Regions from separate parts of the Homo sapiens genome. Here region 2 is linked to region 1. Evidence: fine-mapped expression QTL. A gene starts in region 1. The other region holds a variant in brackets. All regions are shown on one strand. Distances are between the middles of the regions.

The links. PIP is the estimated chance that this variant, and not a neighbour inherited with it, causes the effect.
Region 2: its variant is fine-mapped to the expression of CAPN5 in whole blood (INTERVAL, PIP above 0.99).

The regions. Positions count from the first base shown.
Region 1 is chr11:77,064,618-77,068,999 of GRCh38, reverse strand. CAPN5 (calpain 5) reads right to left here and starts at 2,029. Exons shown (of 13, transcript NM_004055.5): 1 at 1,906-2,029. RefSeq lists a silencer at 1,824-2,513 and an enhancer at 2,370-2,870.
Region 2 is chr11:77,117,690-77,122,071 of GRCh38, reverse strand. CAPN5 (calpain 5) reads right to left here. Exons shown (of 13, transcript NM_004055.5): 8 at 3,720-3,915; 9 at 2,920-3,042; 10 at 1,163-1,359; 11 at 23-138. Among named protein-coding and RNA genes, the nearest start is that of MYO7A, 8.4 kb to the left of the region's middle. The variant T/C (reference allele first, on the strand shown) is at 2,326.

The DNA.
Region 1 (4,382 bases):
AAGCAGGCGCAGAAGCAGACAGAGACAGTGCTGGCCTGGGAGCAGTGTCCCAGATGTCACCCACAAAAACCCACAGGCATCTCACAACCACCCTGTCCAACAGTCAACTTACTCCCAACCTGCTCCACCCCCAATGGTGGTCCCCATCTCACAGAGGCAGCCCCACCTACCTTCCCCCAGCACTGGGACCCTGTGTAGCCCCTTAGCCCCTGGGCACCTCCTGCCCCCAGCACCCCTGCTCTGGGAAACTTTATCAGGGTCCCTCCTCCCCTGCCAAGCCTAGCCCTGGGTGGGGAGCAGAGGAGAGCAGAAGGGAGGGCCCTCTCCCTGCTTTGGCCTCCTCCTTATAGCCCTCAGTGGAAGCCCACCCACTACTGCAGCCAAAGGTGGCCCTTCTTGGACACACATCTGACCTATCTAATCCGCAATCCACCCCACCAGCATTCATTTTCACACTGCCAGGCCTTTACTCATGCTGTTCCTTGGGGCTGCAATGACCTGCCTTTTCTTTTCTGCTTGGTGGATTTCAAGACCCAGCCCCAACGAATCTGCAAGTGAACTCATCCCCAGCTCCCGGGCACCCATCAGTCCCTGTCTTGTGCTCCCAGCACTGGGTACAACTCTGGACAGGGCCTTATCTGTGGACCCACTGCCTGTCTTGTCAGAAGAGAGGCTCCTCAGGGCAAAGACCCCGCCTGAGCACCTCTGTGTGCTGGCAACTAGCCTGACCTGGCCTGCAGCAGCAGCTGGGCCCACCATACCCTGCCCAGGAGGCAAAGGCAGCCACACCACCCCACCCCCAGACCCTGGGGACAGGAGCAAGGACCAGCCCGAGGACCCTGGGAGGTGTCAATCCTTGCAAAACACAGTGGTTCCCCCAGCAGGCCTCAGACTCATTGAGTTGGCTGAGCCTCACCCGTAAGCCCCTCTCTTCCAAGAAGTCTGCCCAGATCTCTCTTTCCCCTGAGTCCTGGGATAGTCGCCCTCAGTACTTTTCTCTCTAAACCACAGGTGTAGGGAGAAGATTCTGGGATGAGAGCCAGGCGGACCCGGGTTCAAATTCTGGCTCAGCAATCCTGAGAGGGCAGCTGACTTCGCTTCTCTGTGCCCCACTCTTCTGATCTGTATGGAACTTGGGGGTGAATCCCACCACATGAAATGACTGGGAGAGAGAACGTCGCACCTGTTAATGATCTTTTGTCCTATTTCGCCTCTGGTCCCCTAGGCCAGTCTTCCGAGACCCCCAACGCAAAGGAACAGAGGTGGGAACTCTGAGGTCTGAGAAACAAAGATCCATTCCCTCCCAGACCACTCCCCCACACTCCCGCAACACACACACACACACACACACACACACACACACACACGTGCGCCCGCCCTGCAGTCAAGGAGAAAAGCCCCCTTTCAACCTGGGGAGTAGTGCCAAGAAGCGGATAGGCTGGGGCAGTAGGAGCCTCGGCCCTGCCCCTTCCCCAGGCCTGGGTGGTGGAGCACCCAGAAGGGGTTGGTGGATTGCAGGGATGAAAGGGGGGTTAAGCAGGGAAGAGAAGGGGGGAACTGTAAGGAAGATGAGAGGAAGTGACAGTCTAGCCCCGGGTGTTAGGCGCTTCCAGCGCGTCCGCACTAGGAAAACGACTCGGAGACACCCAGAGGGAGGTGAAAAAAAGACTCCTCGCCGGGGGTGGGGGTGGGGACGAGCCGAGGGGGCCCAGGCGGATGCTCCAGGACCCCGCCCCCCAGCCAGCGCTCACTTCCTTTCCCCCCGGGCCCGCGGGAGGTGCAGCCCCCTCCACTGATTCGTGGTCCCGGAGCAATCACTGGCCCGCGCTGCACCCGCACACACCCCCCCGAAACACACACACACACACACACAGAAGCACACGCCTCCCTCCGCCCGCCTCCTACCGGCCGAGCCGCCGCGGGTCCAGCCGGGCTCCCGGGATGCAGGGCACGGCGCGGGCGCTGGAGCGGAGGCTGCAGCCGCCCGGCGCAGCAGCCTCGGGCTCTGGCCGGAGATCCAGCTGGGACTGGCCTGCGGCGGGGGCTGGCGCTCGCATTCCCCGGGTTCGGCCAGCTGGGCCCGGCTCCGCCCCGCCCCGCCCGCGGCCTCCGCCCATTTGCCCGTTGCGAGCCGGAGGCGTGGTCTCCCGTGGGGCGGGGTGGGCGGCCCGGTGGCCGGGTGCGCCCATGCGCACTGGTGCGGTGGGCGGCCGCTCAGAGGAGCGGTCTCATTCCAGCCCCTGTGTTGAACGCGGACTTGGGGCCCCTAGCGGCACCCACCGCCTCTACCGGCTCGGTCGGGCCCTCGTTCTCTCTCCTTCCCAGCCTATCTGTCTGCGGTTGGTGCGCATCCCCATGGGCAGCCTCCCAAGGGCTGGCTGCACCGTGAGGGATCGGGCCGGGGCTGGGGTTCAGCCCCCACAGGGCGGGCCGGGGCCGCGGCTGACTTGGGGCCGGCGTGTAGTACCGAGGACCCGCAAGGGCCAGGGTGCCTGCCAGAACCAGGACTTGGTGGGCGGCGCCCCTCCCTTTCCGGGCTCCACCTTCACATCCATCCCAAGTGTTCGGATGGAGAAGTGGGAGCCCAGGCCCCTGTGAGCAGCAGAGGGCCTCTGTCAGATGGGAAAACTGACCCCGGCCCGTGTTGAGGACTTAATCCCGTGCTGCCATGGGCTCCCGGGCTCGGGCTCATGTTTGACTCTCTGTCCGTGACTGGCTACCGGAATGCCCTGGGATGGCACGGAGCCTGCATTTCCTGATCTGTAAAACGGGGACTATAATCTCTACCCACCCCAGGCCGCTTGGGGAATCCGATAGAGAAGGTTTAGGAGTGACTAGTTCTTGCCTACAGTAGGAGCTCAGGGGTGCCACCACCCCCCGCCCTGAGGCAGCAGGACAGACGCCCATCTGATCTGATGAGCCCATCGGCCCACTCGCTGGTGGAGCGTCTCAGGCCCGTTCATTCTCCGCCTCCAATTTGTTTCGAAGTCTCAGTTAATGATTTCGTCAACCTCTTGTGTTACCGAAACAAACTTGGGTCCGCCCACCCAGTGCAGCAAAGCCAAACACTGACACCAGGATTTGCAGCGGCAGAAAGGGAGGCATTTATTGCAGGGTGCCAAGCAAGGAGAATAGGTCGGCTAATGCTTAAGACCCGTACTCCCCAATGGTTTACATGTAAGGCTTTTTAAAGGTGGGGAGACAGAGGTTATAGGCAAAGTCATAAATAAATACTCTGGAGCTATACATTGGCTTGGCCCAAAAAGGTGAGACATTTTGAGGCAGGGTCATAGGTGGATTCAGAGATTCTGTGATTTGCAATTGGCTTAGGAAGCAAGACTGTCTAAAAACCTGGGGTCCACAGATAGGAGAGTTAAGCATTGGCTTATGGGTGTGACTCTTTACAGAACCCTTGGGAAGAAATTTAAAGAACAGCCCTCAGTTTCCCCTTATCTGAGGCCTAAGTGACAGCTGTGAAAAACAATTCAGGGACATAGGTCAAGATGTTATCTTTAGTTTCTATAGGGAACCAGACATCTTGTGGCTCTAACTTATTTGGGTGGCCCTTGTTTGAAGCTTCAATTACCTTCTTGCTTGTCAAGGTGCTCATTTACTTCTCAAAGCTAGCTAGCTGCCTGAAATTCCCCCTGAAAAGACTCATGATTTTCCTTTATTTCCACTAAGAGGAGTCTCTGCCTCACCTCACTCTCAGTCACCTGGACTTCTCTAGCTTCTCCCCAACCTCCCTGCCTCTGTCCCAGGCCACCCAGATGCTTCTCCCTTAAGAGTAGCCCCAGCCCCCTCAGGAGCCTCCTATCCAACCAAAGAAGACTTTCACATATGCAGCTGAGACCCGCCACCCATAGAAGAGTGTTCTAAGACTGCACCCCATCTGACTCCCCCATCTCCCCTAACCTTATTCCATGCCCTGTACTGGGAGCAGCAGCTTCACCAGCCCTTCAAAAGTCACTTCAGGGGCTCTACTCTCCCCACCTGAAACCATGCCCGTGCTGATCTGTGGCCGTCTGAAGGACTCTTCCTTCCTCCCTGTGCTGCAGCATCCCAAAGCTCCCTTGCTCAGCATCCACCCCTCACCTATGGCCCTTCTCAGGCTGCGTCTCTCAGAGTTGCTGGTGGGGCCAAGGTTTCCCCTGCAAGGCCAAAGTTCCTGGAGGGCAGAGGCCAAGGGTCATTGTCAGGAAGACAGCAGCACTTGGTAGAGCCAAGTAGATCTGGGCTCCAGTCCTCACTCTGCCAGTTACTGGCTGTGTGATCTGGGCAGGTCCTCTATCCTTTTCCCTGTCTGTAAAATGGGCTTCTAGCTGGAGTGTGTGATGACCAGGTACAGGCAAGTCACGGGGATCGATAAAGGCCCGGTTGTG
Region 2 (4,382 bases), 53 kb before region 1:
GACTCTCCCTGGGAGAGCTCACCTGTTGGGGAGTCCTTGAGGCCAGCAGCTCCCAGGACATGTACCTGGGTCACCAGCTGGGGGTAGCCACAGAGGGAGCTCCAGCAGGTGTGTGGGGGCTCATCCAGGCGCAGCTCCCTGATATGGGGCGGCAGGGGAGAGGGGAGTGATGGAGAAGGGCCAGGAAGACAGGGGTGAAGAGGGGGTTCAGGAAGTGGGAAGGGAAGAGAAGCAGTATTTAGCCCAAACTTGATTTCATTTAGTCCTGAGCAAATCCCCATGGGCAGTCCCCAGCTCCAAGCCCTGTGGGCTTCCTGCCTTCTCTATCCCTATCAAGGGTACCCCATCCTTCCCCAGGGGAAAGGCACCTTACTGAGCACCTGCTGTGTGCCAAGCCCCCTGCTGGCGTTATGGGTGATTCCTAATCCCTGCAAAGCCCCGCAAAGGCTATTATGGTGCCCATGTCACAGCTGAGGAAGCAGCAGGCTCACCCAGGTGAAGGGCTTGCCCAAACAGCTGGAAAGCTGGGGAGCCTGGGCCGGCAGGACCCTGAGCCGTCTGACTCCACATGCCACAAGCTGCCTCCTGGCTCTGGCACGTGGGCAGAGCTCACCTGTCCTTCAGGGGACACCGAGCCTGGGCTGTGTATCACAGTGGAGGGCAGTGCGGGACGCACAGGGTCTATGCCCCAGCAAGGACTGAGAGAGCTTCAGCAGTCCACTGGAGCCCAGAGCCACCCCCATGGGACAGGAAATTGTGGTGACAAGACCCAACCCTGGAACCAGGCAGGCTGGGTGGCCCAGCCCATCTCCACCGCTGGCTGCATGACCTCAGACAACCCTTCTAACCTCGGCCCCTGAATCTCACTGGTAAAGTGCGGGAGTCAGGCCTCCCACTCAGGGATGCAGGAAGATCAAGATGAGTGAAAGCTTCTTTGTCAACTGTAGAGTGCAGTGCACATACAAGAAGCTGTTCCTAGTCATGGCCAGGGATGCTGGGACAGGGGAACAAGGGAAGAGAAGGGAAGGAGATGGGCACTGGTATCAGCCCAGAGTGGCTGGAGGCCCAGAGACACTGAGCATCTCTGAGGCTGCAGGTTCCTGGTTGGCCCAGTGTGAATGTCACTCCCACCCACACTGGCCTCAAGCCAGCCCCCAAGTACCGGCAGTTGGAGGGCACATCAGTGAAGACTCGGAGCAGGAACTCGCCAGTGTGGCCTGGCTCGAAGGTTGTGGGGATGATGACATAGCGGCCCTCGGGCTGGTCGGTGCGCAGGAAGACGCTGCGTGAGTTGATGTAGATGGAGCTGGCGGCCTTGTGCTGCAGGCTGTGCATGCGGTACTGGCGGTTCTCCTCCACCTGCAGGAGGCGGGAGGGGCTGGGCCACGCGGAGACACACCCTACAACACCCTGGCCCACCCCGCCTCCCCCTCACCACCATGGAAGGGACGATGGAATCCCTTTATATGAAATGTCCGGAACAGGCAAATCTATAATAACAGAAGCGGATTCGTGTTTGCCCAGGGCTGAAGGGAAGAGGTCAATGGGAATGGGTGGTGGTGGTTAAAGGGAGTGGGTTTCTTTTGGGGAGATGAAAATGTTCTACAGTTGATTGTGGTGATGGTTGCATAAACTCTGATCACACAAAAGTCATTAGATTGTATACTTTACATGGCTGAATTGCATGCTCTGTGAATTATATCTCAATAAAAACTATTAAAGGAGGCTGGGCGCAGTGGCTCATGCCTGTAATCCCAGCGCTTTGGGAGGCCAAGGTGGGAGGAACACTTGAAGCTGGACGTTCAAGGTCAGCATGGGCAACAAAGCGAGACCCCAGCTCTACAAAAAACTTAAAAATTAGCCAGGCATGGTGGTGTTCACCTATAGTCCCAACTACTAGGGAGACTGAGGTGGGAGGATCGTTTGAGTCCAGGAGTTTGAGACTGTAATGAGCTATGACAGCACCACTGCCCTCTGGTCTGGGTTACAGAGCAAGACCCTCTGTAAAACAAACAAACAAAAAAAATAGAGGGCAATAGGAATCCCCCTGGTAACAATGTCAGTGGGGTTTCTGACTCCAACAGCACAACCAAGTATCAGGATCTGCAGAGGTCACAGCACCTGTCCACGAAATGCCATCACCAGCTGCCAGGACCTGCCTGACAATCCTGAAAAAAGTGTTCTGGTCACACTAGTGAAGATCGTCACATGGCAAAGTCACAACAATATGTCACAAGACACTAGCATGCAATGAATGTACCAGCACAAGAGTATAAACAAAGTGCCACGGCGTGGCCAGGCACATCAGATGCCAAGGACTCAGCA[T/C]GTACCCAGCCTCTGCAGGGCCCGGTGGCTTCATTCCGTTCTCAAGGTCTGACAGGCACATGGGGTCCCGCCATGCTGACTGTCACCACACACTGGGCATCACAACACGTGGAAGGCCTCAGGTTCCAGGCCAGGCGGTGCGGCCATAGGTGACCCCACCTGGCTATGCTCAAGGATGCCTCCTCCTGGTGCCCAGCAAGGCCTCCAATGCAGGAAGGCTAAGGGGCTGCAAGGGGCCCTGAGGCCTGAGGGAGGAGCAGTGGGGGCCCAGTAGATGCCCAGAGCCTCCCAGGGCCCGGCCCCAACCACCAGTAATCTTCCCCTTCCTCATCCACCAAACATCCCAGGCCTGTGGGTCTTAGGCAGAAAGAAATCAGGCTGAGAGCTCCCACAGAAGCCAAGGCTGGGCAGGCTGGGCCCTCTGTGAATATTCAAGTGGGGCCCATGCCACGGCATCCTCACAATGTCTGCCACGGCAGCCAGGGCAGCGGCAGTGACCAAGGTGTTCTAGAGCGTTCTTCCTCAGGCATGGGCAGTCCAAACTCCAGCTCCCTCCCTCTCCCCACCCACGGCAGGGGACCCGGCTGGCCTCACCTTGTAGATGTCAAAGCCAATGGCCAGGTTCTCACCCTTGCCCTCCCGGCGCGTAGACCGCTTTGGCCGCTGCTGGATGCAGATCAGGACTTCATCTTCTGGCTTCTTGACTTCGAAGATGTACTGCAGGTGTGGCCAAGGAGAGAGAGAGACACTGCAATGAGACCACACCAGGCATGGGCTGGCTGGCTCCCGGAAGCTCAGACTCCAGAGCCTGGACCAGTCACAGCACCTCTCTGCGCCTTGGTCCCTCTGCTGTGAGGTGGGCCTACCAATGCCTGCAATGGCTACCCTGCATGAAGGCTGGGGAAACTCAATGCCAGGGTGGCCACTCTGCACAGAGCCTGGCACACAGGTGGTGCTCAACAGAGGCACACCAAGCACCAGGGCTAAGCAGCGCCACGGGTCAGACTGAGGAGGCTGTGGGGAGAGGCCCCGTGGGGAAGCCCAGCCCAGCCAAGTTCCCAGAAGGGACAGAATTGTGCTGTTGTGGAAACAAGGGGCTGAGTCCCTGGCTCAGCCTCTAAGTGTCCCTGTAGCTCAGAACAAGACACCCAAATGTCCCTCAGAGCCGCGGTTTCCTCATTTTTACCATCTGCAGGTTAGATTGTGAGGCTGGGGGCTTCATGACCCCCAGATGGGACGGATGTGCCCATCTAACCCCCACTGTACAGACAGGTTTGCTGAGGCCCAAGGAAGGACAGGGATTACCCAAGGTCATGCAGGAGTCCCTGGCAGGACAGTGGCAAGGCACCCCGCAGCTGCTACAGGGCAGGGTGGGGGTTCCTGAGAACGCCCACCTGTGGGTTCTGGAAGAAGGTGTCCTTGTGGTTGATGCAGCCGCCACCGCGGTTCTGTCGCGGGTCCTCATGCAGCGTCCAGGCGCCATGCAGCCGGGCCTCCTCCCACGTCTTGTGGATGCTCAGGTGGGATGTGTTGATCACGCGGCACTTGATGATGTCCGTGAAGTACCGGCACACGTCCTCGAAGGTCATCCTGGATGTGGGGAGGGGCTGAGCAGGGTACCTCCCCCACACCTCCCCAGGCTCTTGGCCCCCCAGCCCAACAACCTAATATGTCCATATGGCCCAGAGGTGAGAGAACACAGCTGGCTTTGAGAGGGGAGCTAAGCCCACACAAGGGCACAGGCATGGCATTGCACAGACCCTTAACCTCTCTTTTGACCTGTTTCCTCACCTGTAAAATGAGGCTGAATCTAACAGCAGGTGCCCATCTCAGAGCTAGTGAAGGAATTAGGTAATGCAATCAAAGCAGGCAGTGCAACTTTCGGCTGACAGAGCACGCACTGGCAAACGCTGGCTGTTACTATTGTGAATGGTGTTAATAACTACTGTCTGCTGCCCTGTACAGTTTATAAAGCACATCTGCATCCAGGATCTTCCATGGCTGTTGAGAGGCCTGAGTAAGTGGATGGTGGGAACCCCATGGTGAGCCTGCTGCGG